Homo sapiens: one gene and its partners. The protein of the gene in region 4 interacts with the protein of the main gene of each other region in a pairwise test. Each region holds a gene or a part of one and is shown on either strand. Other genes may lie near its edges.

What was found.
Region 1: the proteins of ZNF835 (region 4) and GOPC interact in binary tests that used the Homo sapiens proteins (3 or more experiments, as listed by UniProt).
Region 2: the proteins of ZNF835 (region 4) and PRDM14 interact in binary tests that used the Homo sapiens proteins (3 or more experiments, as listed by UniProt).
Region 3: the proteins of ZNF835 (region 4) and CCDC6 interact in binary tests that used the Homo sapiens proteins (3 or more experiments, as listed by UniProt).

What each region holds. Positions count from the first base shown.
Region 1 is NC_000006.12:117,571,498-117,578,534, forward strand, and holds part of GOPC (Golgi-associated PDZ and coiled-coil motif-containing protein), read right to left. Parts: intron 5,975-7,037; coding exon 5,951-5,974; intron 3,856-5,950; coding exon 3,680-3,855; intron 2,136-3,679; coding exon 1,970-2,135; intron 1-1,969.
Region 2 is NC_000008.11:70,054,222-70,061,258, forward strand, and holds part of PRDM14 (PR domain zinc finger protein 14), read right to left. Parts: intron 4,622-7,037; coding exon 4,419-4,621; intron 1,181-4,418; coding exon 1,079-1,180; intron 1-1,078. UniProt on the Homo sapiens protein: Transcription factor that has both positive and negative roles on transcription. Required for the maintenance of embryonic stem cell identity and the reacquisition of pluripotency in somatic cells.
Region 3 is NC_000010.11:59,812,557-59,819,556, reverse strand, and holds part of CCDC6 (coiled-coil domain-containing protein 6), read left to right. Parts: intron 1-4,801; coding exon 4,802-4,905; intron 4,906-6,761; coding exon 6,762-6,922; intron 6,923-7,000.
Region 4 is NC_000019.10:56,661,743-56,668,779, forward strand, and holds the end of ZNF835 (zinc finger protein 835), read right to left. Parts: intron 3,504-7,037; 5' UTR 3,457-3,503; coding exon 1,843-3,456; 3' UTR 238-1,842; downstream 1-237. UniProt on the Homo sapiens protein: May be involved in transcriptional regulation.

The DNA of each region.
Region 1 (7,037 bases), on a different chromosome or scaffold from region 4:
ATCACAAGCCTCTTCCAGTTTTAAAATACTGATCATGTGCAAATGCAAAACAAAACAAAAAACCTTTCAATCCTTCACTATCTTCCTTAGCAACTACCATCCTCCCCCTTTCCTTAACCTCTACACGAAGTTCATCCTCATCATATCTACTTCCTTGCCACTCACATTCAGTCCTCTGGTCTCTGTAATTAGAGTTTTGCCCCTACATGCACAACTGGAATTTTCTTTTCTGTGGTCACCAGTAATCAATATTGTTACACACAATTAACACTTTTTGTCACTATCCTACTTCAAACTTGCAGAAAGTTGATACTGTTCATCAACCCCTCCTTGAAACCCACTCTCTCTGTTAGTTTTTATTACACTACTTTCCTAGATGGCCTGTATCTGACAGCTCCATCCCAGGCTCCTTCCTTTAGTGATCCTTTTCCTTCTCCCACTCCATAAGTTTCTATCCTTGGCCTCCTATTCTTTTTACTACATATATACTTTATATATACATATATACTTGGAACAGGCTTAATGAGTTCCAAGGTTTCAAGTATAATAGAAGGATAGTTTCCCTAATATTTCTTCAAAACAGATTTCTCTTCTGAAATCCAGAGTCATATGTCCAGTTGGATGTATCTTGGATACCCCATTGTCACCTCAAACACTACTTGTCTAAAACTGATCTCATCATCTTTTCCCCAAATCCTTCCTTTTCTTCTATTTCCCTTCCCAGTGAATGCCAGATCTCACTCAGTTGCTCAAACTAAAAGCCCAGACTCTTCTTTTTCACTATTTAACCAAAAGCAGTTAGTCACCAATCAAGCCCTCCTGATTATAATCCTCTCAAATCTATCCTTCTTCTCAAATGCCACTTCTCCTGACCTCATCACTTTCTCCTTGGATGACCATAGTATCTTTCTAATATATCTCCTTGACTCCAACTTGGTCCTCTTCACTATACCAAAATAACTATTAAAAAATGTAAATTTTATGAAGTCTGCCATTTTATTTAAAACTTCCATGATTATCAGGTTAAAGTTAAAATTCCTCTATTTAGTATAAAATAATTTCTATAATCCAGCCACTACCTAAAACCCCAACCTCATATTTAGCTAATTTAACAAGCATGCTTTTATCACTCAGACACATCTGATACAAACTACTTTGTCTTCCTCCTAACCGCTCCATTTCCCAAATCTACTGGACCTAGAAGTTAATGGGAACCACCAGTGCCCTAGAAAACAATGGCATAAGTGCTTATCGCTATCCCCACTTCTCTTCCACCAACTCTATTTACATACCAATTCTTCTTACAAAAATCTTTGCAGAGCCAACAAACTATTTTACTATTTAAGGCCATACATTATCTGGTACTAAGATATGTGAACCCTTGGGAGACATGCTTTCATATATTAAGGTCTATATTATCAAGCAGCTGTTATGATAAAATTCAATAAAGATTTATCCAGATAGAAGCTTTTATATAATGGTGGCTACAGAAGCAGACAACTGGCTACAGATCTCAAATTCTATCTTAATCCAAGACCAAACAGGTGTAAATGTTAGTTCAGAATCTACATTTGGATTCAGTTACTAAAAGTTCCCTTAAAGAACTACCCCAAAATATCTGCCAAATTATCAATATGACCACACACTCTAAGCTAAGATTAAAACAAATTCAAGCATGCCCAATCATGATCCAGGAAAAACTGGAAATATGATCCAACATTATAGCAATATGCATTTGCTAACAATGGCTCACTGTCTGCAGCACTCTCAGGGCATTAGTAAGTCTGTGAAGAGCTACTAAAATTTCTATGGGTGTTGAAACTTCATCTACTTTGAATAAGTTGAATCCCATTTTCACTTTTAAATAAAGGTTTCAAACAATACTAGAATAAAGGAAAGAATGGAAAGCAACTGTGATTAAAGAAAGAAAGAAGAGGCTGGGTGGGAAGCAGCAGCAAAGCAAACATACATGGCCTGGTGGTGCTTGCATTGGTCGTTTCAAGTCATTACGTCCTCTGCAGGCTCGGATCACAGTTTTGTGACGATGCAAATGTATTTCAGCTTCTAATTGGTTCCAAAGCTTATCATGAGCAGGTCCCTTCATATCTCGTCCTAGCAATTGTATCTGTTGGACCCTTCATATTGGGAAAAGAGTACATTGATTTTTCATTATATTCACTACAGTGAGAATTCAGGAAAATTAGTGAACATAAGTAGCTTTTGCATGAATCTCAAATTAGTGATAAAACTAATACTCACGAACTTCTTGATGTCTCTCAGATATAAAAAAAATATGAAAACTCTGAAAAGAACAGGTATCCTCAAGGGAAAAACCAGTAAAAAAAATTTTTAAAGGAATTAATGTGAACTCCTTTAGTCATATACTTAATTCAAATAAATCTAAAAAAAAATTTATGAGATTAATGTCAATCTATGTCTTGCATGCAAAGTCACTGAACTCAGATACTATTAAATGTTAGCTTTTAGATGAGATAAATGGACAAAAATATTTCTTCTAATTAGAGTTTCTTTTCACAAAATGATTACTTTAAATGTGGTTAAAAGTTACTAGAACCAGCCAGGGCAACAAGGCAAAACCTTAACAATTAACCAGGCATGGTGGCATGCCTGTGGTCTCAGCTACTTGGAAGGCTGAGGTGGGAGGATCACTTGAGCCTGAAAGGTGGACGCTGCAGTGAGCCAACGTTGCACCACTGCACTCCATCCTGAGCGACAGAGTGAGACCCCATCTCACAAAATTTAAAAAAAAAAAAAAGTTACTAGAAAATTTGTACTTCAAGATGATATAAATTATTTTTTCTTTGTTCCATGTTTTTAATGTGACATTAAAAGAATATGCACAAAATGATTTAGTACTAATAAGTCACCAAAGTTTGTTAATAATTTACTTAATAAATACAGCAGAATTCTGTGTATGATTATGATAAAATCATTGTCATTAACTAAATACCAACACGTTTTTTTGAAGGGCAAGAAAGACTGGGTTTCAGTGATCATAAAAAGAATTCCTTATGGAAGTTCTGCTATGCATGTGAATATCGGCTGTACTGGTCTCAAGGCACAAAATAGTTGAAAAGTGCTGCTCTACAGAGTTGTTAGCATTTCACAGTAAGATACTATCAGTGTTTGTGTGTGTAAACTAAACATATTTAGTATGGATAACTAGATCTGCGATACATAATGCTGTCAGTATTAATTTAACAACAGTAAGTTAAAACCAACTGTAAAATAATTCTGAGGAAAAAGATTAATGCTTCATTTACCATAAGAAAAAAGAGTAGGCCAGGTGCGGTGGCTCACACCTGTAATCCCAGCACTTTGGGAGGCCAAGGTGGATGGATCACAAGGTCAGGAGTTTGAGACCAGCCTGGCCAACATGGTGAAACCCCATCTCTACTAAAAATACAAAATTTAGCTGGCCGTGGTGGCAGGCACCTGTAATCCCAGCTACTCAGGAGGCTGAGGTAGGAGAATCGCTTGAACCCAGGAGGCAGAGGTTGCAGTGAGCAGAGATCATGCCACTGCACTCCAGCCTGGGCAACAGAGCAAGACTCCATCTCAAAAAAATAAAAAATAAAAAAAGAAAGAAGTAAGAGTCAACCTCATTAAATATCCAATTTGTCACTTAAGAGTACAATAATACCCATTTTTTACACACCTTCCTGCCAGTTCCTTATCCAAGTACTTGGCAGCTAGTCTCGCCCCATATACTTCAGCCTGGAGAACAGCTATATGTCTACGAAGGGCTTCATTCTCTTTTCTCAACAATTTCACTTCAGCTTCAAGTTGTGCTTCTTTCATTTTTTCTTTTTTGTTTGCCTCAAGCTCTCTTTCCTATGTAATTTTTAAAAGCATATAATTTAATGAAAATAAAAACTCTTTAGCACTAGACCATGTTCCTGAAAATGCACAAAAGCCTACAGTTCAACAATGTATCATCTCTATAAAATGGAACACAAAGATCTGGATGTAGTTCTTTTGAACTAGTACCATAACATCTTGGAACTACTTCTAGATAAAATAATTGCACGCCATGGGTTACCCTGATATGGAGTATAGTAAGAAAAGTAGTCTACTCTAAGCTCATGTTATCACATATTAGTAAAAGTGGCTTCAATGGATAGTTGAATCTGCTATTTACTTCTAAAACCCTTTTGAGAGTTAAATAAGGACCCCAATAGACATTTTAACTGTTATTTATAGATCAAAAAAACCACGTAAACACTGAAAACTTGCATTTATCCTGAGCAGAACTGCTTTTACAGAATCCACAAATCCTATGAAAACATGGTTACATTTGTTCACAATATGTGGAAGACATTATTCCCTATACCCCCTTTGTCCCTTTTGTGAGGACGTAAATAAAAACCTACCTTAGCACCAGAGAAATTGTTTCTCTTGAGGAAATGATGAATAGTATTGTTTCTATTGTATGGGCACTGATTATTTTACATAATTATTTCCCTTTTTATTCTGGATATTGAGAAGCTAAGAAACAAATTTAAGCAAATTTTCAGCAATTCATGGAATATATTTTGGTACTAATTTAATGTGCCTCCTTTGGTCTACTGTTTTGAACAACATCAAAATAGATATATTTGAATACTAGTCAATAAATACGATAATCCTAAAAAAAATATATTTACATATACACACACACATACAAGCTAAAATTAATGACAACTACTAAATGCTAGATATATTTATCACTTCTTTGATTAAAAATATTTGTTATATATATGACAAACAGATGAAAGATTAGCAGACTCAATTTCTGGGAAAAAAAAGATTAGAACGTAATTTCTAGATACTGGTTTTAAAGGATTCGAAAAACTCAATCTAGAATCCTCCTTTTAACATAATTTTGGAATTATTAAACTCTTATTTCAGAACCTATGTCCTAAAAGGGCAAGTATCTGTTTCAAAAGAAACCAGTTTGGAGATACAAACAAAAATCTTTCTTATGACATGTTAAAGTTGATGCAACTTTTGAAAGAGCACTCCTAGACCAAGATTTCTTTGGCTTATGGGCTAAATAAACTTTATGTTGATGATTACCTACTTTCAATTACTTTAATGAGCTATTTATACTACATTAATGAAATGTGGGAGACATACTAAGCTACCACTCACTGGGGTTTTAATGATTCAAATCCCTAATGAATCTGACAAACTCTTGGGCCCGAAATTAACAGAGGTAAGCAAGAATAAGATGAAGGAAACTGAAGTTAACCATTTCTAGATTTCCAGAAAAAAATTTTCTTGGTTCTTAGTTAACCTGTTTGTTACTAGGTAACACCCAAGATGTTCATTTTACATTTAGATACCAAAGATTATATCTTCAAAAGAGGTAAAGCCATAAGACAAATTGGAACTTGATTAGGTTGGGGTAATGAGAAAAATATTAAAAATGTATTGTTATTTTCTAAAATAACTTCTGCTAAAGCATTTCAAAATTCAATTGTTTCAAAGGCCATACGATTATTCTCAAGACTCTTGAAAAGTTGTAACGCAGTAGATGAAGAAGAAACCAACATGCACATTCTTTTCTGGAAATAATTTCAAACAGAAACTTAAGGGGGTTAAAAACTAAGCCTGCTTGATATATCTTCAATACCCTGAAGTGGGAAAACCAATTGCTCTTTGAAGTAGAGGTATGAGCAAGCTACAAGGCTCAAAAATTGTCAAAAATTGACAGGCTCTGCAAATAATGGCTATAAATCACTAACAAAAGAAAAATGTTTAACAACATGCAGTGAGAAAAGAGCAATGGGCCATCCACTGAACTTTTCAGGTACTGGAACATTAAAAAATTGCCATTATTAATGCTATTTTCAAATACAATGAGTGACAACATATAATATGCAAATAAAACACTAAGAACACTTCAGCGTGACATATTAAAGCAAAACAGAAACAATATACTTACCAGCTCCTCCACAGAGGGGCCAGACTTCAGATATAAGAAAAAAGTTTTATAATTAGAAAAAGATCAAACAAATGATTTTATTTAGTGGTATAGTCATTATAAGGAAAAATCCCACATGTTGGATATCATTTGGGTAAAGTTCATTAGAACAAATATATTTGCAATCTATAAACAATAGTAACTGTAATAGCATTAGATTAAAACTTTTTGTTTTATCAAAATTAGTCAACATAACTGGTACAGTGTTCTTTTCATCATACTCTTTCAAATTCTAATGTTAAAACTTCAGGTAAATTCTTTTCTAGAGAAAATTTAGATTGTTTCTGAATGTTAATGTCAAATAGCTCGAAGAAGCAGTTATGAGCTTTTATTTCAGTTAAATAAAACCCTTCTAACACAGATTCACAGAGTTAGAAAACTTAAGAGTTTAACTTAAAATTATTTTCATGAATTTTAACACATCAGTACTAGGAACTAATTAACCAAATGAAATTAACTGAAAACAAATAAAACTTATAAATGTATTACTCTCATTATATCATCAACATCATTTCATGTCCTGCCTCTGCCAAGCAATAGCTGTCTTATTTATTGCTGTGTCCCATATAGGAACAAAATATCTGCTATCTCTTACACACTCAAAACATATGTGGTACACAGTGGCAGGAAAAATGCTTACAATATATTAAGAGCAAAAGAAAAGAATGTGCTACTGGTTGGTACCCAATTCCATTTCTTACTTCTTCCTTATTAACAGACTCCAGTTTTACTGGAAGTGGCCATATGGCCAATAGGAGACTGACATGCAGCTGGGGATGGTCAATGAAATGCTGGCAAAAATTACTGAGAAAGATTTAATAATAAGTTCTTTAAAGAAGGCTAACATCATGGAGAAGCATCTTTTTGCCCTTTCCTTAGATTAATCCTTCTTCCTGCCTGAAATGCAGACATGAAGAAATCCTGAGGATGGAAACCATAAGCTAAAAATGGCAGAGCACAGTGATGGAAGGAATCTGGATCTCTAATATTTGTGGAGCTGCCGTATCAACTCTAGACTGCCGGTCTCAGATTTCATTTCAGAGAAAAA
Region 2 (7,037 bases), on a different chromosome or scaffold from region 4:
CTGCAATGCTCCTATAGAAAATTACATCAGTAGCATCCTTCACAGATTAAAGTAGTAATAATAGCAGTTAACATTCCAGTAGTACTTTTATGTTATGCCAGGCACTGTTACAAGAGTTTTATATACTTTACTGATGTTATCCAACAACTTGGTAAAGACTATTCTCCCCAGTTTATCAATGTGGAAACTAACAGGAGTTCATGGACTTGCTCAGGGTGGCACAGCTAGGTAAGCACCAGAGGCAGGATTTGAAACTTGGCCATGTTTGTGTTCTTAAATACTATGAAATAGTGATTTTTTTTTTTTTTTTTTTTTGGAGACGGAGTTTCACTTTGCCACTCAGGCTGGAGTGCAGTGGCACAATCTTGACTCACTGCAACCTCTGCCTCTGGGTTCAAGTGATTCTCCTGCCTCAGCCTCCCAAGTAGCTGGGATTACAGGAACGTGCCACCATGCCCAGCTAATTTTTGTATTTTTAGTAGAGATGGGGTTTCACCATGCTGGCCAGGATGGTCTCGAACTCCCTATCTCCAGGCACCTGCCCACCTCAGCCTCCCAAAGTGCTGGGATTACGGGCTTGAGCCACCACGCCTCCCCACCCCCTCCTTTTTTTTTTGAGACAGTGTCTCACTCTGTCACCCAGGCTGGAGTGTGCAGTGGTGCAATCTTGGCTCACTGCAACCTCCACTTCCTGGACTCAAGCAATTCTCCAGCCTCAGCCTCCCAAGTAGCTGGGACTACAGGCATAAGCCACCGATGCATGGAAAATTTGATTATAGGTGTGAGCCACCACACTCAGCTAGTGCTTTTAAATACTATGTAATAGGTCATCAGGTCCCCATAAATTTGGAATGTATTTTATTACATGTACTCTAAATGCCAGCTTGGCAATAGGAGGTTGGTTATATTTGACCATCTTTAGCAAACTTGAGCATATTTAGGGGTGGAAATGAGGACTGGGCTGATATTTGACTAACATTTACCAAGAACTCATTAAGCCAGGCTTTGTTTCAAGTTCTTATCCATAGACACTCAAGCAGAGCTCAGGACACATCCCTTAGTAAGAGGTTCCATTTACCTTAGTACAATACACACACTGGTATGGTCTGTCTCCAGAGTGGACTCGCATGTGTTTGTTTAGGCTGGAAGATTGAGAGAAACATTTCCCACATGTAGAACACTAAGGTGAAAAAGAAAAATATAGTTGAAATCACACCTTCCTCTAACAAGTCCATTTCAACCTTGCGTTTACCTGGGGTTAGAGAAGAACTCTTTTCCAATTTTTTTCTTTTTTTTTTTTTTGAGACGGGATCTCAATTTGTTACCCAGACTGGACTGCAGTGGCACAATCACGGTTCACTGCAGCCTGGAACTCCCAGGCTCAAGCGATCCTCCCACCTCAGCCTCCTGAGTAACTGGGACTACAGGTGCGTGCCACTAAGCCAGCTAACTTAAAAAATTTTTTTTTGTAGAGATGAGGTCTCACTATGTTGCCCAGCCTTGTCTTGAACTCCAACAGATCCTCCTGCCTTGGCCTCCCAAAGTGCTAGGATTATAGCCTTGAGCCACGGCACCCGACCTGAGAGAACTCTTGCTTCAGATGTGGAATGTGGGAACTGAACAGGTTTGTGGTATATGGCAGAGGCCTGAATTAGTCCTGCTCTCTCAACAGGTAGCTGTGTGACTACAGAACATTGGTTAAATCTGGAATCTTAGTTTCCCGATCTTGCTCATGGGCAAAATACCTGCTCTGCCTTCCTCACAGAGCTATGAGTAAACTACAAGTACTGTGCAATTAACTCAACAATTATCTACGACTTACAGAGTACCTACTGTGTGCTCCACACTGCTAGAAACCAGGAGCTAGAAATCAAGGAGGGGTGACGATGAACATGTAAGCCAACATGGTAATGCACAGTAGCAGATTATCTGAGACGTGTTGAACTTGCATGAAGAGGTTAATATTTTGTTCACACGCTGTGAATAATTAATATTGTTTCTTGACCCTGGCAACTCCTCTCGAAACTGTCTCAGGAATTCTACACCAGGTGAAGTAAACTACCAGAGAGGTGCAAGCACCGAGAGTTTGCCAGGGATAAAGCAGAAGGCCTTTGGTTTTGACATCACTTTTAAGGAAATTACACTAACTAAAGAGAAAAAACAATTTTTCTCTGAGAAAGGTTTCTGTGCTTTCACAACCTCTTTCCAGGCATGCTTATGGGGCAGAGGAGAGAGCAAATCTTTGTATTTGTTTATTTATTTATTTTTATTTATTTTTGAGGCAGAGCCTCGCTCTGTTGCCCAGGCTGGAGTGCAGTAGCATGATCTCGGCCCACCGCAACCTCTGCCTCCTGGGTTTAAGCAATTCTGGTGTCTCAGCCTCCCGAGTGGCTGGGACCACAGGTGCGCACCACATGCCCATCTCTACAAAAAATACAAAAAATTAGCTGAGCATGGTGGCATGCACTTATAGCCTCAGCTCAGCTACTTGGGAGGCTGAGGTTGGGTGATTGTTTGAGCGTAGGAGGTGGAGGTTGCAGTGAGCTGAGATCATGCCATTGTACTCTAGCCTGGGCAACAGAGTGAGACTGTCTCAAAAAAAAAAAAAAAAAAAAAGATTGTTCCTCCACTGTACTGTAAGAGCACCTCGTCTGTTGAAGGGTAAGCCATCATCTCACTATCACCAGCTTCCTCATCAGTCCTGTCATCTACTGACCTCCTGGTTGACAGCCCTCCAGTTTCTTTTCTTTTTTTTTTTTTTTGAGACGGAGTCTCGCTCTGTCACCCAGGCTGGAGTGCGGTGGCGCGATCTCGGCTCACTGCAAGCTCCGCCTCCCAGGTTCACGCCATTCTCCTGCCTCAGCCTCCCGAGTAGGTGGGACTACAGGTGCCCACCACCACGCCTGGCTAATTTTTTGTATTTTTAGTAGAGATGGGGTTTCACCATGTTAGCCACGATGGTCTTGATCTCCTGACCTCGTGATCCACCTGTCTCGGCCTCCCAAAGTACTGGGATTAGGCGTGAGCCACCACTCCCGGCCTCCAATTTCAAAGAGAGCAAGCATTCTATACATCTTCTGTAATTTGGTTTTTGCTTGATAAGACAATATTTTTTTTTTTTTTTTGGGATGGAGTCTCACTCCTGCCACCCAGGCTGCAGTGCAATGACACAGTCTCGGCTCACTGCAACCTCCGCCTCTGGGGTTGAAGCAATTCTCCTGCCTCAACCTCTAGAGTAACTGGGGCTACAGGTGCCTGCCACCACACCCGGCTAATGTTTTTATATTTTTAGTAGAGATGGGGTTTCGCCATGTTGGCCAGGCTGGTCTCGAACTCCTGGCCTCAGGTGATCTGCCCACCTCAGCCTCCCAAGGTGCTGAGATTACAGGCGTGAGCCACTGCGCCTGGCCAGTAAGCCATAATTTATATAATCAATTTTGTGTTGATGAACATGCAGTCTCAAACTTTTCACTATCAGAATACTGGATAGTTTTCACTTTTGCCAGTCTAATAAGCGAGAAATACCTTCACCGTCCTGATATTTTTAAATCCTTTTAGAATTACACAAATGCATGATAACTGTAAATGTATTCAAATTTTATAGGAGTATATAATATAGTGATTAAACATGACTTTTCCAGAAGCTTAGGAAGGAAGGGAGAAATTAGGACAATTTTATGATGATTTTATTCTCAGTTTTCAAAACAGGAAAATGGGCTCAAGGTCGTAGCTGCCTGAGGTAGTTCCGACAAGGCCAACAGTCAAGCAAGAATACATCTGTGCCCAAGCCTCGTCCTCCTTTTAATTAAGCCCAAGGGAATATTGTACTTTTTTGCAGCAAGCCTAGCAGAGCATCCAGGTATTTGGAATGGCTCCGTAATGTCATTACTGATTTTCTGTCTTACAAAATCCTCGGCCCACTGTAGAGGCCTTCCGCTCCTTGGAAGGACCGTGCCTTCACTTCCTTCTTACCTATACCTGTCAACACACCTGCACAGATTTGGAACAAGGCGCAGTTCCCCAGGAGCACATGCCAGGCTCTCTCCTGTCTGGAACAGCTCGACTCTTTCCTGCCCAACTAACCCTGCCACCAGTATAAATCAGACACCCCATTTGTCCTTCTATACTTGGCTCAAGGCCACCTCTGTGCATCTTTCATAATCCACGTGTCCAGGTGGCCGTGGACACTCCTTCCTCCATGTTCCTCCCTCTGTGGGTACCTGCATCCTAACACATGTGCATCGCTGTGCCTATTCACGCCTGCCTGTTCCGTAATACTATCCTCTCCTCCTTCAGAGAGGGTGTCCGTCAGGCATCACAGCCCTGCAGCTAGCACCTACAAGGCAACTCCCCGTGTTCAGGAGCTTGGGAAGGGAGAGAGAACGTGATGGTGGGTCATGTGTCCTCCTAATACTCACCTTGTGAGGCCGGTGCTTCTCATGAACATGAAGAATGTGGATCCGAAGCCGGTCCCGCTTCTCAAAGGATCGTTTGCAGAGAGAACAGGGAAATTTCCTATCGCCCTTGTCCACACAGGGGGTGTACTTGAGGTGCTTATCTCTGTAATATTTGTAGGTAAATACCTTCCCACATCTTTCACATCTGTAGCCTTCTGCAGACTCTGTCAAACACAGCAAACACAATGTCTCTTCAGTTACTTCCCTCCCTAGTTCCTTCAAGAGGATATTTATTTATTTATTTATTTTTAGCCAAGAATTCTTTGGCTACTTCAAGAGGAATTTTCTTTTTTTGAGACAGAATCTTGCTGTATTGCCCAGTCTGTAGTGCAGTGGCACGATCTTGGCTCACTGCAACCTCTGCCTCCCAGGTTCAAGCGATTCTCCTGCCTCAGCCTCCCAAGTAGCTGGGATTACAGGTGCCCACTACCACGCCTGGCTAATTTTTGTATTTTTAGTAGAAACAGGGTTTCATCATGTTGGCCAGGCTGGTCTAGAACTCCTGACCTCAGGTGATCAGCCCCTCTTGGCCTCCCAAAGTGCTAGGATTACATGCGTGAGCCACTGTGCCTGGTCAAGAGAATTTTCTTTTCTTTTCTTTTTTTTTTTTTGAGATGGAGTCTTGCTCTGTCACCCAGGCTGGAGTGCAGGGGTGTGATCTCGGCTCACTGCAACCTCCACCTCCCGGGTTCAAGTGATTCTCCTGCCTCAGCCTCCCAAGTAGCTGGGACTACAGGCACACACCACCACGCCCAGCTAATTTTTGTATTTTTAGTAGAGGTGGGGTTTCACCATCTTGGCCAGGACAGTCTTGATCTCTTGATCTTGTGATCCACCTGCCTCGGCCTCCCAAAGTGCTGGGATTACAGGCATGAGCCACCATGCCCGGCCGCCAAGAGAATTTTTAAAAACCTTTTTATTACAGAAAAATGTAAACATACCAAAGTGAAAATAATAGTGTAATAAACCCTCATGTGCCAAACACCAAGCTTTGACCAACTCGTAACTAATTTTGTTTTCATTTATATCACCGCTCGCCATAGTAGATTATTTTAATACTAATTCATCCTTTGACTCAAAAACATCTAACCGTAATCTTTAGAAGATGACATATTTTTAAAAAGCATAATTGTGACCAGGCAAAGTGGCTCACGCCTATAATCCCAGCACTTTGGGAAGCTGAGGCAGGTGGATCACCTGAGGTCAGGGGTTCAAAACCAGCCTGGCCAACATGGTGAAATCCCGTCTGTACTAAAAATACAAAATTAGCCAGGCGTGGTGGTGCCTGCCTGTAATCCCAGCTACTTGGGAGGCTGAGGCAGGAGAATCACTTGAACCTGGGAGGCGCAGGTTGCAGTGAGCCAAGATTGCACCACTGCACTCCAGCCTGGGCAACAACAGCAAAACTCCATCTCAAAAAAAAAAAAAAAAGCATAATTGTGCCAGGTGCAGTGGCTCACGCCTATAATCCCAACACTCTGGGAAGCTGAAGTGGACAGATCGCTTGAGCCCAGGAGTTTGAGACCAGCCTGGGCAACATAGTAAGACCCCATCTCTACAAAAAAATAATAAAAATTATCTGGGCATGATAGCACACGCCTTTAGTCCCAGAGGCCGAGATGGGAGGATCACCTGAGCCTGGGGAAGTTAGTTGAGGCTGCAATGAGCAGTGATTGAGCCACTGCACTCCAGCCTGGGCAACAGAGCAACACTTTGTCTCGAAAAAAAAAAAAAAACATAACCATAATGTCATTGTCACATTGTCATACCTAAACGATTAACTCTTATTCTTTTATAGAAACATATATGTACTTATATATGCACATTTATATACACACATATATATTTGTTTAATTACTTTCTGGTCAGTCCATTCAAATTAGGCTTCAAACAAAGTCTACATGTTGTATATGGTTGCTATGTCTCTTAAATATCTTAACCTATAGGCTCTCTTTCCCTTTTGTTCCTTGATATGTACTGTTGAAGAGACCATTCCACCAGCCCCATTTAAGGGCAGTGCAACCCTGCAGCTCTTGAACACATTCCTGCCTGGCACTTGTTACAAGGTTAATACACTGAGGCACTGAGGCCGACCTATTTCTCTTTGTGCCTTTAAGATCAGCCTGAGTTACAAGCTCAGAGCAGTCACCAGGACACCCGCAGCTCACAGTGCTGTTCTATTCTACACAATTCAAGGGACCTTCTTAGTTTATACTTCATTACTCAAAACTTGTGGCAGATTCCAGAGCTAGAATCTTTATGTATAGAGTAAGGTTGAAAGCATCTTGACTTCCCTAATGCACAGGGTTACCGTGATGACTAATTTAATTCTAACACTTACCGAGTCTTACCAATGTGAGTGATACTATCACTGAATGGCAGACAAGACTGAGAGGTAAATCTGTTTTTATCAATGGAGGAGGGAGGAGGAGAGAAGTTAGAGAGGGTGCAGCTAGACTCTAGCAAAGCAGGTCCCACGTCCAGGGGTGTCTATGTGTTGGGGGAAGGCGAGAGAACAGGGGCCACCTACAAAAGCATCCCTGCAGAGGACACTCTGGATCCCAGAGGATAAAGTGGCTT
Region 3 (7,000 bases), on a different chromosome or scaffold from region 4:
GTTTTAATTGGCGGAACTGTTATGTTCACTTTGGCTCTAAGTATATAGGATTTGGAATTAGGTGGGCAGGAAGTGGTGGGGAAACTGATAAAGAACTTCAGGGGAAATTAACCAAGGGACTCAATATGATTTCCTCTAACTTCTCTGCTCTTTAATGTCAGCCAGAGCTCCTCAACAATGCTGAAAAGTTGAGATTTTTAAAACTGAAAAAACAAGAGGCCCTGCTCTTTTCAGGGTTAAAGATAATATAGAGTCCTGTAGCACTGCCAGCCTATGTAATGAAATACAGTAAGTCCTCACTTAACATTGTCAGTATAGTTCTTGGAAACTGACTTTAAGTGAAACAACATATATGAAAATCAATTTTACCAGAAGCTGATTGATATAAACAAGAGTTAAGTTCCTATGACATATTTCTGGTCACAAAAACATTATCACACTTCTAAATAAAGACCCAACATACTTCTGATATTAAATATTGAAACAAATATGAGTTATGCATATATTAAAGATTAATGAAAACCGTATAATTACCCCATTTTTAGTGAATCAGTGAGTGATGGTCATAGTAGTGATGTGTTAAATCAAGGGATAAATGTTTGCAAAGTAAAAATTGTAAGGAGCACCTCCTCCCAACTCACAGTTCAAAAGCAAATAGTAACAATTACAGCGGCTTGCTGAATACTTGCATACTGCATCATTGATTTTCATGTGTTTGTATGATTAGCATATACTTTATGAATTTGTATTTTACAATAATTTGTACTCATTCATTTTCTAACGTGCTTATTCCAGTTCAGATCAAGGGTGGCTGGAGCCTGTCCTGGCAGCTCAGGGCACAAAGCAGGACCCAATCCTGGATGGGGCACCAACTCATTGTAGGACACACTCATACACACACTCTTACTCACTCCAGAGGGACTATGTAGACATGCCGATTGCACATCTTTGGGACATGGAAGTAAACTCGAGTATCTGGAGAAAACCCACACAGACATAAGGAGAACATGTGAACCCTACATAGACAGAGGCCCCACTGAGAATCTGCTTCCCCCCCCCCCGTCAACATTATAATAAAAGGACGTTGAACATTCAAGGACCTACTGTACTTGAGAATCCACACGGCTGAGCTGGGGCTTCCTGTGTTGCCTGCATCATGGAAATAAATTAGTAGAGCAAATTGGGACAGCAAACCCAAGTTTCACACTCAGGGTGCCCACGTTTGCTGAGGTGGGCAGTAGATTGATAGCTGGTAACTCTACCAACAGATGCCAGGAAGGAGCCGAGATTCACGTAGAGCTCCAACCCATGTTTCCTGATCTCGTCTGTTTCCAAAATCGCTCATAGACTCCCTAAACTGTCCTTATTTCCCTGGCATCAGCTACCCCCAACTCTGCTACTCCCAAGTATTGTTGGCAAAGGAGATAGGCCCACAAACCACAGCTTGATTTGCCCTAAATCCATGTTTCCCTCAAGTTCCTCTGTACTTGCTGGTTGGACAGGACCCAGCAATTTTGGCTGCCATGGTGACCGATATCCGTTCCTATCTTGGTGGCATGACTGCCTGAGTCATGTCATCTTGCAGGCTAGTGGTTTCCTCAGCTTTAAAATGATGATTTGCCATGCTGCTTCTGGCTCTAAATGCGTGTGACGGAACTAGCCCCGACTGAAGACAGCTACTGTCTTGACATTGGGCAGGGAATGACAGAATGGATAGGCCAGAAAGGGACCACAGGCATCATCCAGGCCAAACTTCTCATTTCATAGATGAGGGCATCGGAGCTACAGCAGCTGAGTGACCTGCTCAGAGTCACATGCCTCATTAGTTACATATGGGTAAAGACAGCTTTGTCTTGATTTTGCTTCTCAGAGTTATTGATTAGTATTATGAGTATTTACTCTAAAAGTAATTGAGTATGCATTTCTCCACTAGACATCATACCGCAAAATGATGCCTGCTTGAATTTTTTTCTTGCTTATCAACTACCTCTACCTCCTATGATGCTTTTAAACACTGGAATTGGGATCCTTAAAGGTAAATGCCTCATAGTTATTTGTTTAAATAAACATAATTCTGAGGCTGGGGGCAGTGGCTCACACCTGTAATCTCAACACTTTGGGAGGCCTAGACAGAGGATTGCTTGAGGCCAGGAATTCAAGACCAGCCTGGGCAACGTAGCAAGAACTCATCTCTACAAAAAATAAAAAATTAACCAGGTGTGGTGGTGTGTGCCTGTAGTCCCAGCCACTTGGGAGGCTGAAGCAGGAGGAATGCCTGAGCCCAGTGGGTTAAGGCTACAGTGATCCATGATCGTGCCACTGCACTCCAGCCTGGGCAACAGAGCGAGACCTTGTCTCAAGAAAAGAAAAGAAATGACTGTGGATTGTACTTCAAAGCTTGGCCAAAGTGTATGATGAATGCAGAGAATCACAAGGTTTAATAGGAGTCATATAAGGGTCCCACAATTTCTCATTGTTGCTGCAGGTAGGAATTGTTTAACATTCTGAGGAGCATTTGCACGTTAGTGGGGTCCCAACTTTGCGGCACAATATATTTGACTTATTTTGACACCCTGCACCTCCTCCTTTTTGCCCTTGAACTGTTCTTCAGAATCAAATTCTGCCATGCAAAAACAACATATTTTGAAGCTCTGTTTCCAGTTTGCTACATAATCATGGCTTATTCACTTGTCAAATAAGCCCTCTAATATATATTGATGGCCTATAAGGTGCCAGATGTTATTCTAGATACTGAGGATGTACTAAGGAATGAAACAGACAAGACAAGTCCCTTGTAGGACTTACATTGTGGAGGGCTGGAACAGAAATAGAACGGATATCCAGATATAGTGATTATCATAGCCAAAAAGTGTTGAGTGCTTTCTAAGTGCCCATTAGTTATCAATGGTTTACCTAGATTTACAAATGTAATGCTCACTGTAATCCAATGAGCCAGACATTATTTTTGTCCCTTACTTTGCAAATGGTAAAATTATATCTAGTAATTTTCTCAACATTTTCTAACTAGTGATTGATGGAGCTGGGATTTGAACCTAGGCATTTGGCTCAAAGTCTATGATCATAAGACAGAAGTGTAATTACAGGAGTCTCCCCCCAATGCATTGGCTGCTGTTTTGTGACTGTACCTGTTTGTAGGAAATATTTTAAATATTCAAATGGCCAGTTGTTTCTACAGCTATTTTTATGGCTTTGAGAGGAGAAAAGAAAAGCCTAGAGCTGTGTCGTCACAGGAGAGTTTTTCCCATCTGTTTGAGACCTCCTTTTTTTCTCTAAACTTAGAACATAATGATATCATTATCCTTATATCATTTCCTCTCAGGTCTTGATTGTTCAGGTTCTGAGGCAGCTGATTTTATGCATATTCATTCTGGCTCAGATGTGGAACAAGTAGCTGCTCACCTTCATTGGCTGTCCTGTGCTCCTGTGTGAATATGGGCAAGTCTTTTGCTCTCTGTGAGCTCCTTAAGGACCTTGGGTGGTGTTGGTAGTACTAACCATCTCGGGAGGTTGAGATTGTTGCTTCTTAAGACTAAGCTACGAAGAGTTTCAGAAAGGGGAATGTCATTTGGCTGTAAAAGTAAAACCGCACTTTGGATATTATTTTCTGATGTTTGATTGCTTTAAAAGACTACATTTTATTCATGTTTTTGGTTCTGCCTTATGTATACACACGGGATCTTTGGATGAGGAGCTTGCCTCTGTGACCCACTAAGGAAATGTGGAATCTATTAACATCTTTGTGCAATCAAGAATAATTTGTTGACTCAACCATTGAAAGGTGAATTGCCACTGGTTGAAGAAATAACATGGAAGCAGTAGCATAGGCTCTTTGCATTAAGAAAAAATTTTTAATTATTTAATATGTCAAGTACGGAGAATGATAGAATACATGTCCTCTACTCATTGCTATGAAACCTCTTGCACTTTCAGTCTCTCTTACCAGCCCTCTTTTTCTACATATCTGTTTCATACTGTTTCACAAGTATATAATTGTTTCATTTACTGTCTTGACCCCCACTAAAAGGAAGATCCATGAGGGCAGAAATTCCTGACTCCTTGATTCACTGCTATGCCCCCATTATCCAGTCATTGTTCTCAGTATTTATTACATATTGCTCAATATTGATTAATTGAATTTTCCCATGTTTGCTTCATTGAAATAGAACACTGTTGGGGTTCCCTCCGCAACTGCAAAGCCTCCCCCAAATCAAATTTTCTTCCTTCCCTAAATCCTTAGAGTAACCTAGAGTAACCAGTATTGTGGATTTGGTGTTTATCATATTTTGTGCGTGTTTTTATATCTTAGTACATGTTTATTTATCTCCATTAGCCAGTATGTAGAGTGTTTGGGAGCTTTTAAGAGTTATTTATATGAATAGTAATATAACCTTTCTGACTTACTGTAAGGGACAAGCCCGGAAGAATAACTGTAAGCCCAGAACTGTAAGGGACAAGCCCAGAAAAGTCCTGATATGACTAGTACACCGAACTCCCCTAAAGACCTCTCTAAGGAGGACTTTCCACTTGCCTTGAATAAATGCTGAAACAAGCAATGCATTTCATGTACCAGACAACAATTAAGCATTAACATCCAAGAATGAACCTATCTAGTTTTTTTCAAAGTTTAAGAACTAGATGCACTTAATATGTTTGTGCCAGAAAATTGGCCACATGTTTGCAGTATTCTCCAAGAAAAGGGGTCCTAATTGTTCAATCAAAAAATGTATTAACAAAGTATAAGTGGCCTGACACTTTGGTAACACTTTTTTCCTTCCTTTAGTTGAGACGGGAGAAGATTGACCTTGAAAATACATTGGAACAAGAACAAGAAGCACTAGTTAATCGCCTCTGGAAAAGGATGGATAAGCTTGAAGCTGAAAAGCGGTTTGTTTAGTCTTGCTGTTCAGTATGGGTGTGTGTGTGTGTGTGTGTGTGTTGCTGCTCTGGGTGTGACTGAGGAATAGCAGTAGGACACCTTAATTCTTTGGTGATGCACATCATTTTAATTGGCCAAAGGAAAAAAAATGTTGAAAGCCTTCTGAACTATTCCCATGTTGGGCACCTCTTTATTCTTTGCTATCATACTGTCCCAGTAGAATTTCTTTTCATTTGGTGTTACAAGGCTATGAGAGAATTAGTCATGCTGCTATTGTTCACCTTTAAAGTATTTTCAAGAATGGTTGCAATTTCAACTTTCCACCTTATTGAACTGGCTTCCTCAGTTGTTTTGTAAAGTACATAGGGTATACTGCGTACTATTATTTATACATCTCTGGAATTTACTTCTTTAGGAAGCCTGAGATTTTAATAATAAAATTGTTTTAAAACCTACTGTAAAGAAATACCTTTACATACTTAAGGCTAGGATTCTTTATATAAAATGTATGTACTTGGAAGTGGAATGTCACTCAACAGCAAACATTTCTTAAACCTCTTTGTGCAAGATAGTTAAGCCCTTATTTTCAAGCACTGAGTACTTTGGAGTGTGTGAGGCAGGGCTTGTAAGAATGGGAAGAAGATTCTGTATGTGGAATGTGTGTACGGGTGTAAAAAGTGAGTTTCTTAAAAATGGTCATTAATCTACTTCACCAAGATCTTTTGTTTGCTACCCAGAGCCCTTCCTCCTTAAGTATTTGGTTTGGATGCATATTTGTAATTGTTTTGAGTTCATGTCTACATTTGCAAAATACAGGCATACCACATAGCTTTAAGAAAAGTGAAAATTAGAGCTATATCTATAAGAAATACTTGTTATAATCATATCCACTATGCTTTACTGATAGGTATTATTGTAGCAGTACTAATAAGTTGAATTACGAAAAGTCATTTTATGTAATAAATGCAGGGACCATTATAATATTTAACACACTAGTTTTCTCAAGGGTAGACCTGGATGGAGGTAACTCAGTTTGCTCCTGGACAAACTCAAAGGTACAAAGCAAAAACAAAACAAAAACCCCAGCAGCTATGGAAAGGGATTTAGAGATCTGCTGCCAAAGGAAGACTTTGTAAAAGGCAGTTGGAGGTTTTACATGTATTAGTGCCAAATTATTGGGTTGAACAGTATGGAAGTTTGCATTTTGTAGGTCAGAGCTATTGAATATCAGTATTTTATATCCTTCAACATAAAAATAATTGGTAAAGAAGGTGGCACTACTAATTATTAACCTAACAATTTTGGTTTTGTTTTTAACTTTTTACCTTTGCTGTGGCCAAAAGCAAAGGGCCGCTAGTCCAGTTTGCCATGCCCTTGCAATTAGTTTTGCAGGAGGGAATTTTAGAAGTTGAGTCTCTGTGTTACTTTACCCTCCAAGGAGATTCATAGTAGCTTAGAAGCTTCAATCAAAAGCCGTAAGAAAATGGAATTTCCTCAGCATCTTCATGCACTAAACCCAAGAAGTTGAACATTGAGTCAGCAGGTATTTCTAAGTGCATACTGTATTCCAGGCATAATTATCAGATCCTGTTGTTAAATAAAGACTTTTCAGTATTGTTTAATTTAAAACATTTAATAGTCATTTAAAAGGAAAAAGGGAGATTAGAATCAGCTCTGCCCTTTGAAGTGAGACACCACGTAAGGGCAGAAGTTTGATGTAAAATGGGCAGAGGAATTAAGCAACCCTGTGAATTCTGGCAGTAAACAGGAGTTTGCTTTTAAAACAAACCTGCCAGCTAGTATGTTGTTTTGTCTTTTCAAGGAAAACTGTTAGTCATTGTTGGAATTTTTCTTTTCAATGAAGAATCCTGCAGGAAAAATTAGACCAGCCCGTCTCTGCTCCACCATCGCCTAGAGATATCTCCATGGAGATTGATTCTCCAGAAAATATGATGCGTCACATCAGGTTTTTAAAGAATGAAGTGGAACGGCTGAAGAAGCAACTGAGAGCTGCTCAGTTACAGCGTACGTAGCCTCTGGTTTCACTAGTTTCATGCCTGTAGAATTAATAACTTTACCAAATATAGGGTATTACCAACATTT
Region 4 (7,037 bases):
CTGCATATCATATGCTACCATTTGTGAAGAAAGGTGTACTATATATCTTTCCAGAATATTCTATGCATATAAATATTCATATATATGCTTACATATAGTAAGCATTTGCTTCTAGTGAGGGGGACTTGGTAGCTGGGAGACACAGGAGTAAGAACAGTTTTTTTTTTTAACTTTATAAATTGTGGACTACATGAGTGTATTCCCCCATAAAATAATTTTCCAATGATTATAGTCATGTGAAGTTATGAGATTATAACTTTAATTCAACATTGTAGTAGGTGGATTACGTTCATAACTCCTACTTTTCACCCTTCCCTGGGACCACATGCTTAGGAAGGCTCTTCCTGTGCTGATCCTAGGCTTGGCTAGGAGGCTTGCTTTGGCCTGTGGGACTAGATGCAAATGTGACAATATCAGAGACTTGAAAGCATGCCTGTGTGTCCACTCCCTCTCAGACTCCTGCCACCTCCCTGAGAACACACCCAGGTGAGATGTGAGTCAGGAGAAGAAGATCAAATTGGCCCAGCTGAGCCCTCCTGGTCCAGGTCCAGACCAAGCCTGGTCCAGACCAACAGAACCAGCAGCTGACCTCCAGATGCATGAGAAATAGTAAATGGATAAATGAGGGCTGGATGGTTTGTTACACAGCAAGAGCTGACTGATACAAGCATTAAAGTCAGGTCTTTGAGTTAGGGGGAAAAATGGTGGAGATGGGTAGGTGTTTCCTCATACTGAAAAAAAGACTAGGCCCACTCTAAAAATCTTTTGTAGAGGAGAAGCACTCCCTTCTTCTAGAATAACTTTCAGCTCTAGATTTCTCCTGCTCATTTTCTCTAAGCACTATTTCTATCTTAGTGAATCCAGATTTCTTCTTCAGACTCTGCTCCTTTAGTAAATATGCCAACTTGGCCAAAGAAACCAAACCTTTTATTCACTTTAATTCAATTAAATTTACTGAGCAAGGGCTTACTCAATAAAATCAACAATGAAAAGGCCAGCTGGCCAGGCACCGTAGCTCAGGCCTGTAGTCCCAGCACTTTGGGATGCCAAGGCAGGCAGATCGCCTGATGTTAGGAGTTCGAGACAGCCTGGCCAACATGGTGAAACCCTGCCTCTACTAAAAATACAAAAATTAGGCTGGGCGCGGTGGCTCATGCCTGTAATCCCAGCACTTTGGGAGGCCGAGGCGGGTGGATAACGAAGTCAGGAGATCGAGACCATCCTAGCCAACATGGTGAAACCCCGCCTCTACTAAAATACAAAAAAACTAGTCCGGGTGTGGTGGCCGGGCGCCTGTAGTCCCAGCTACTCGGGAGGCTGAGGTAGGGGAATCACTTGAACCCGGGAGGCGGAGGTTGCAGTGAGCCGAGATTGCATCACTGCACTCCAGCCTGGGCGACAGAGCAAGACTCCGTCTCAGAAAAAAAAAAAAAAAAAAATTAGCCAGACTCCTGTAATTTTAACTACTCGGGAGGTTGAGGCAGGAGAATCACTTGTACCCGGGAGGCAGAAGTTTCAGTGAGCCGAGATCGCTCCACTGCACTCTAGCCTGGGTGACAGAGAGAGACACTGTCTCAAAGAAAAAAAGAAAGAAATTAAAGGCCAGCCATAGGTGTTTCTGCAGGTCTACTTGCCCGTGCCCCATTTATAATTTTGCACCAGGAAGACCGCAGGGGAGTCTGGCAGATGTGAGGTACAGTCTTAGCCCTGTGTCTTCCCCACTGTGTGCCCTCAGGCAAGTTAACAAGCTTCTCTGAGCCTCGGTTTCCTCACAGGAAGCGTCGGGGATAACACAGTATCTCCCCCATAGCATTGTGAGGTTGGAAAGGAGGCCCTCAGCTCTTAATCTTCTGCTGGTCCACGCGGGTTTCTGCCAGGGCACCCCTGTTGACAGGTTTCTCCTCCCTGTGAGAGCCCAGGTGTTGAGTCAGGCGTGGGAGCTGGGCAAAGGCGTCCCGAACTGTCTGCATGCGTCCTCTGGTGTCGGATGAGCGCGGAGGAGAAGCTGAAGGCCTTCCCGCAGCCGCTGCACTCGTAGGGCTTCTCCCCGGTGTGCACGATGTGGTGCTGGATCAGGTAGGAGCGGTTGCTGAAGGCCTTGCCGCACTCGGGGCAGGTGTAGGGCCGCTCGCCCGTGTGCGTGCGCTGGTGCAGGGCGAGCGAGGAGCCCTGGCTGAAAGCTTTGCCGCACTCGCCGCACTTGTAGGGCCGCTCTCCGGTGTGGATCTTCTGGTGCTCTATAAGCGAGGACACGTGGCTGAAGGCGGCCCCGCATTGCAGGCACCTGTAGGGCCGCTCACCGGTGTGCACGAGGCGGTGCTGGAGGAGGTGGGAGCGGTTGCTGAAGCGCTTGCCGCAGTCGTGGCAGGGGTAAGGCCGCTCTCCGGTGTGCGTGCGCTGGTGCTGCGTCAGGTGCGACACCTGGGTGAAGGCCTTGGCGCACTGGCCGCACGCGTAGGGCTTCTCGCCTGTGTGGATGCGCCGGTGCTCGGCCAGAGAGGCGCTCTGGCTGAAGAGCGCGCCGCAGTCCTGGCACGTGTAGGGCTTCTCGCCCGTGTGCACGCGCCGGTGCTGGGTCAGGTGCGCGATCTGCGCGAAGGCCTTGGCGCACTGGCCGCAGCGGTAGGGCTTCTCCTCCGTGTGGATGCGCTGGTGGCGGATGAGCGCTGAGGAGAAGCGGAAGGCCTTGGCGCACGCGGAGCACTCGTAGGGCTTCTCACCGGTGTGGATGCGCTGGTGCTCTATCAGGGACGAGCGGTTGCGGAACGCCTTGGCGCACTGGGCGCACGCGTAGGGCCGCTCGCCCGTGTGCACGCGCCGGTGCTGGGTCAGGTGCGTGACGCGCGTGAAGGCCTTGCCGCAGTCGGCGCAGCGGTGCGGCTTCTCGCCCGTGTGCGTGCGCCAGTGGGACGCCAGGTACGAGCCCTGGCTGAAGGCCTTGCCGCACTCGTGGCAGGCGTAGGGCTTCTCGCCCGTGTGCGTGCGCTGGTGCAGGGTCAGGTGCACGCTCTGGCTGAAGGCCTTGCCGCACTCGGGGCACGCAAATGGCTTCTCCCCGGTGTGGATTCTCTGGTGTAAGATGAACGCTGAACAGTAGCTGAAGGCCTTCCCGCAGTCCCCGCATTTCCACGGCTTCTTGGGGCCTCCACCTCTCTCCCGCTGGCGGCTGTCAGGATGCCTCTCCTTCGGGCTCTCCCCAGGCGCGCTGCACCTCCGGGAACTGCTGTCGTCGGGGACACTGGCTTGGGTAGCAGCAGGGCTCGATATGGTTCTTGGGATTCGGCTGAATTCATCGCGTTCCTGCATGCTGTCCCCAGCAGGGTCTCCCTTGCAGGCCACGGCCTCTGGCTCTGGACAGCTTTCCTGGTTTTCCTGCAGGTCCTCAACCTGGCCCTCGTGTTTCCAGTTTCCTTCCAACTCTGCGCCCTGGAGGGCGACGCTCAAGAGTCCCTCCATCCTCGATCCCTGGGCTGCTGTCTTGATCTCACATCTTTTCTCTGGGTCTGAAAAGAAAAAGATAGAAAAAAAAATTAAATGTTGCCACTTGTCCTGAGCTGGAAAAATGGCTAACAGCTGAACTGGTAAGAACTTAGCATGGGGTCCCTGGACCTCTGTGCCAATGACATTTTGGGTCCAATAATTTGGTGTGGTGGGACCCATCCTGTGTGTTGTGAGATGTTGAGCAGCGTCCCTGGTCTCTCCACACTGGCTGCCAGGGACACTACCCCTCAACCCCTGAGTTGTAACAATGAAAAATGTCTCCAGGCCGGACGTGGTGGCTCATGCCTGCAATCCCAGCACTTTGGGAGGCCAAGGCAGGTGGTTGCTTGAGCCCAGGAGTTTGAGACCAGCAAACTGTCTGCTGCCTGGGCAACACAGCAAGATCTCATTTCTACAAATGAAAAAAAAAATTAGCCAGGCATGATGTTGTGCACCCGTGGTCCCAGCTACTCAGGAGGCTGAGGCAAGAGGATCAGCTGAGCTCAGAAGGTTGAAGCTGCAGTGAGTAGTGATCACACTACTGCACTCTAGCCTGGGTGACAGTGTGAGACCCTGTCTGAATTTTCTTTAAAAAGTCTCCAGACACTGCCAGGTGTCCCCTCCCCTGGGGACAAAATTGCCCCCAGTTGGGAATCACTGACTTAATGGAACTAAAAACAAATTTAAAAGATCCCTGAAAAAGAAAAAAAAAGCATGAATCTGTCAGCTCTTAAAATATGGCCCTGTAATCTGGTGCTGTGAACTGAATTGTGCCCCCTCAAAATTTATACATGGAAGCCCTAACTCCCAAGGTGATGCTTTGTGGAGATGGAGCCTTTGGGAGGTGATTAGCTTTAGAGGGGGTCATGAGGGTGGGGCCCCCACAATGGGACTGTTTTATTTTTTTTTTGACATGGAGTCTTGCTCTGTTGCCCAGGCTGGAGCACAGTCTTGGCTCACTGCAACCTCCGCCTCCCGGGTTCAAGCAATTCTTCTGCCTCAGCCTCCTGAGTAGTTGGGACTACAGGTGCACGCCACCATGCCCGGCTAATTTTTGTATTTTTAGTAGAGAGGGGGTTTCACCATATTGGCCAGGCTGGTCTCAAACTCCTGACCTCAGGTGACCCACCCACCTTGGCCTCCCAAAGTGCTGGGATTACAGGCGTGAGCCACCGCGCTTGGCTGGGACTAATGTTTTGATAAGAAGAGGAAGCGACACCAGAGCTCGCTGTCTGTCAGGTGAACACATGGCAAGAAGGCAGCCGTCTGCAAGCCAGGAAGTGAGTCCTCAGTGTGGTCTGACCATGCTGGCACTCTGATCTCAGACTCCCAGCCTCTAGCACTGTGAAGAAATAAGTGTTTATTGCTTCAGCCACCTAATCTGTGATTTTTTTTGTAAGCTGGAGCTAAGATAACTGGAAAGACAGTTTTCTTTTCTGGGGAAAAATCAGTTGAAACTTTAATTCCCAGTGTGACAGCGTTTGATGTGGGGCCTTTGGAGGATGATTAGGTCATGAGGGCATCCTCCTTAATAGGATTAGCGTCCTTATAAGAGGAGACACCAGGGGGCTCACTTACTCTCTGCTCTCTCTGTCCTCTCTGCGTGTGAGGACACAGGGAGAAGGCGGCCATCTGTAAACCAGGAAGAGAGCCCTCACCAGACAGAATCAGCCAACAGTGATCCCAGATTTCACATTATGGGGACACTATTCAACTCACTATGCTCCCCTTCTACAGGGCTCCATCAGTGAAGGAGCTGCCCAGGGTCTCCCAGGCTCAGAGGTTCATGCTGGCTCGTGGGCCCAGGGTCGTTAGAGATGGTGATCTCAAGCTATTGCAGGTTACCCTGTCTGCTTTGCACATTTTCAGTGGAAAGCAGGGATCTGTTTTTATATGAGCCCAGGAAGTCACTGTTTTTTAGAAAGCCATAACAGAAGCCATACATATAGTTACTTCTAGTGGGGCTGTGATGCTGAAGGATTTATACCAATTGCCTGGTGTACACTGGACCTGCACGCTGGCGAGAAACTCACCACTGACTTCTGATGCTTTAGTTCTAACAGAATGGGAAGACAGATGGACAAATGACCTCCTGGTGCTGAGAGAGGGAAGGAGGCAGCTGCCTGTGGATCCACTGTGCTGGGGCTAGCCCCAGAGGAGGGGGCTCACACTGCTGGGAGGTCCTTTCCAGGCTGTGTGGCTGCAGGTAAGTGGCTACCTGCTCTGAGGCTCTGCCTGGTTTTCTCTCTCTAAACAGGGCTCCAGCCTCCCCTTCTCCCGAGGGACATGGCAGGTCTCTCAGCAAGCTTGGCCTCATGTTATGTGTGGGCTCAGCCCCTCACACACAGGCATTCCCTGAACCAACTAGTAGGCTGTGTGCATACAGCAGAGAGTGCTCGGCCTTTGGCTCCTCCGGGTACACTCCTGCTGCTGCTGGACAGGCTACGTCTGAAGCTTGTCCTCCCCACTTCCTGTGTGAGATCCTAACCCTTTGTGGTGGTGCTAGGAGGTGGGGCCTCTGGGAGGTGATGATGACATGAGGCTGGAGCCCTCAGGCGTTGGATTCCTGCCCTTATAAAAGAGGACCCAGAAGGCTCCCTTGCCCCTTCCTCCAAATGAAGACACAACAAGAGGGCCCGGTCTATGAACTAGGAAGCAGCCCTCACCAGACACCAAACCTGCCGGCACCTTGACCTTGGACTTCCAGCCCCTAGAACTGTGTGGAAATAAATGCTGTTTCTTTCTTTCTTTCTTTTTTTGTTTTTTTGTTTGTTTGTTTTGTTTTGTTTTTGAGATAAGAGTTTCGCTCTTGGTGCCCAGGCTGGAGTGCAGTGGCACAATGTTGGCTCACTGCAACCTTCACCTTCCGGGTTCAAGCGATTCTCCTGCCTCAGCCTCCTGCATAGCTGGGATTACAGGCATGCGCTACCATGTTCAGCTAATTTTTTGTATTTAGTAGAGATGAGGTTTCACCATATTAGTCAGGCTGGTCTCAAACTCCTGTCCTCAGATGATCCACCCACCTTGGCCTCCCAAAGTGCTGGGATTACAGGCATGTGCCACTGTGCCCGGCCAATAAATGCTGTTTCTAAGCCACCAGAGTATGGCATTCCGTCACACCCCAAAGGACCTAAAATAGGGCTTTTTTTTTTTTTTTTTTTGAGACAGGGTCTTGCTCTGTTGCTCAGGCTGGAGTGCAGTGTTGCAATCATAGCTCGCTGCAGCCTGGGAATCCTGGCTCAAGTGATCCTCTCACCTCAGCCTCCCAAAGGGCTTGGATCACAGGCAGGCACCACCAACCACACCTGGTCAAGACAGGGCTTTTGTGTGGGCTATTCTTTCTGCCTGACATGCTCTTCCCGCAGCGTGTGCCTCAGCAAGAGGACAAGAGGAGACCCTGAGGGAGTGATGATGTTTGTGTTCAGGGTGGAGAACACAGCAAGTGCAAAGGTCCCAGGGCAGGATGGTGACAAGGGTGGCAGAGGAAAGGTAAAGGGGGTGGGGCTGGACAGAGCAACTGAGGTGCAAGGCAGGGGAGATGCGGTAGAGTGGGGTGG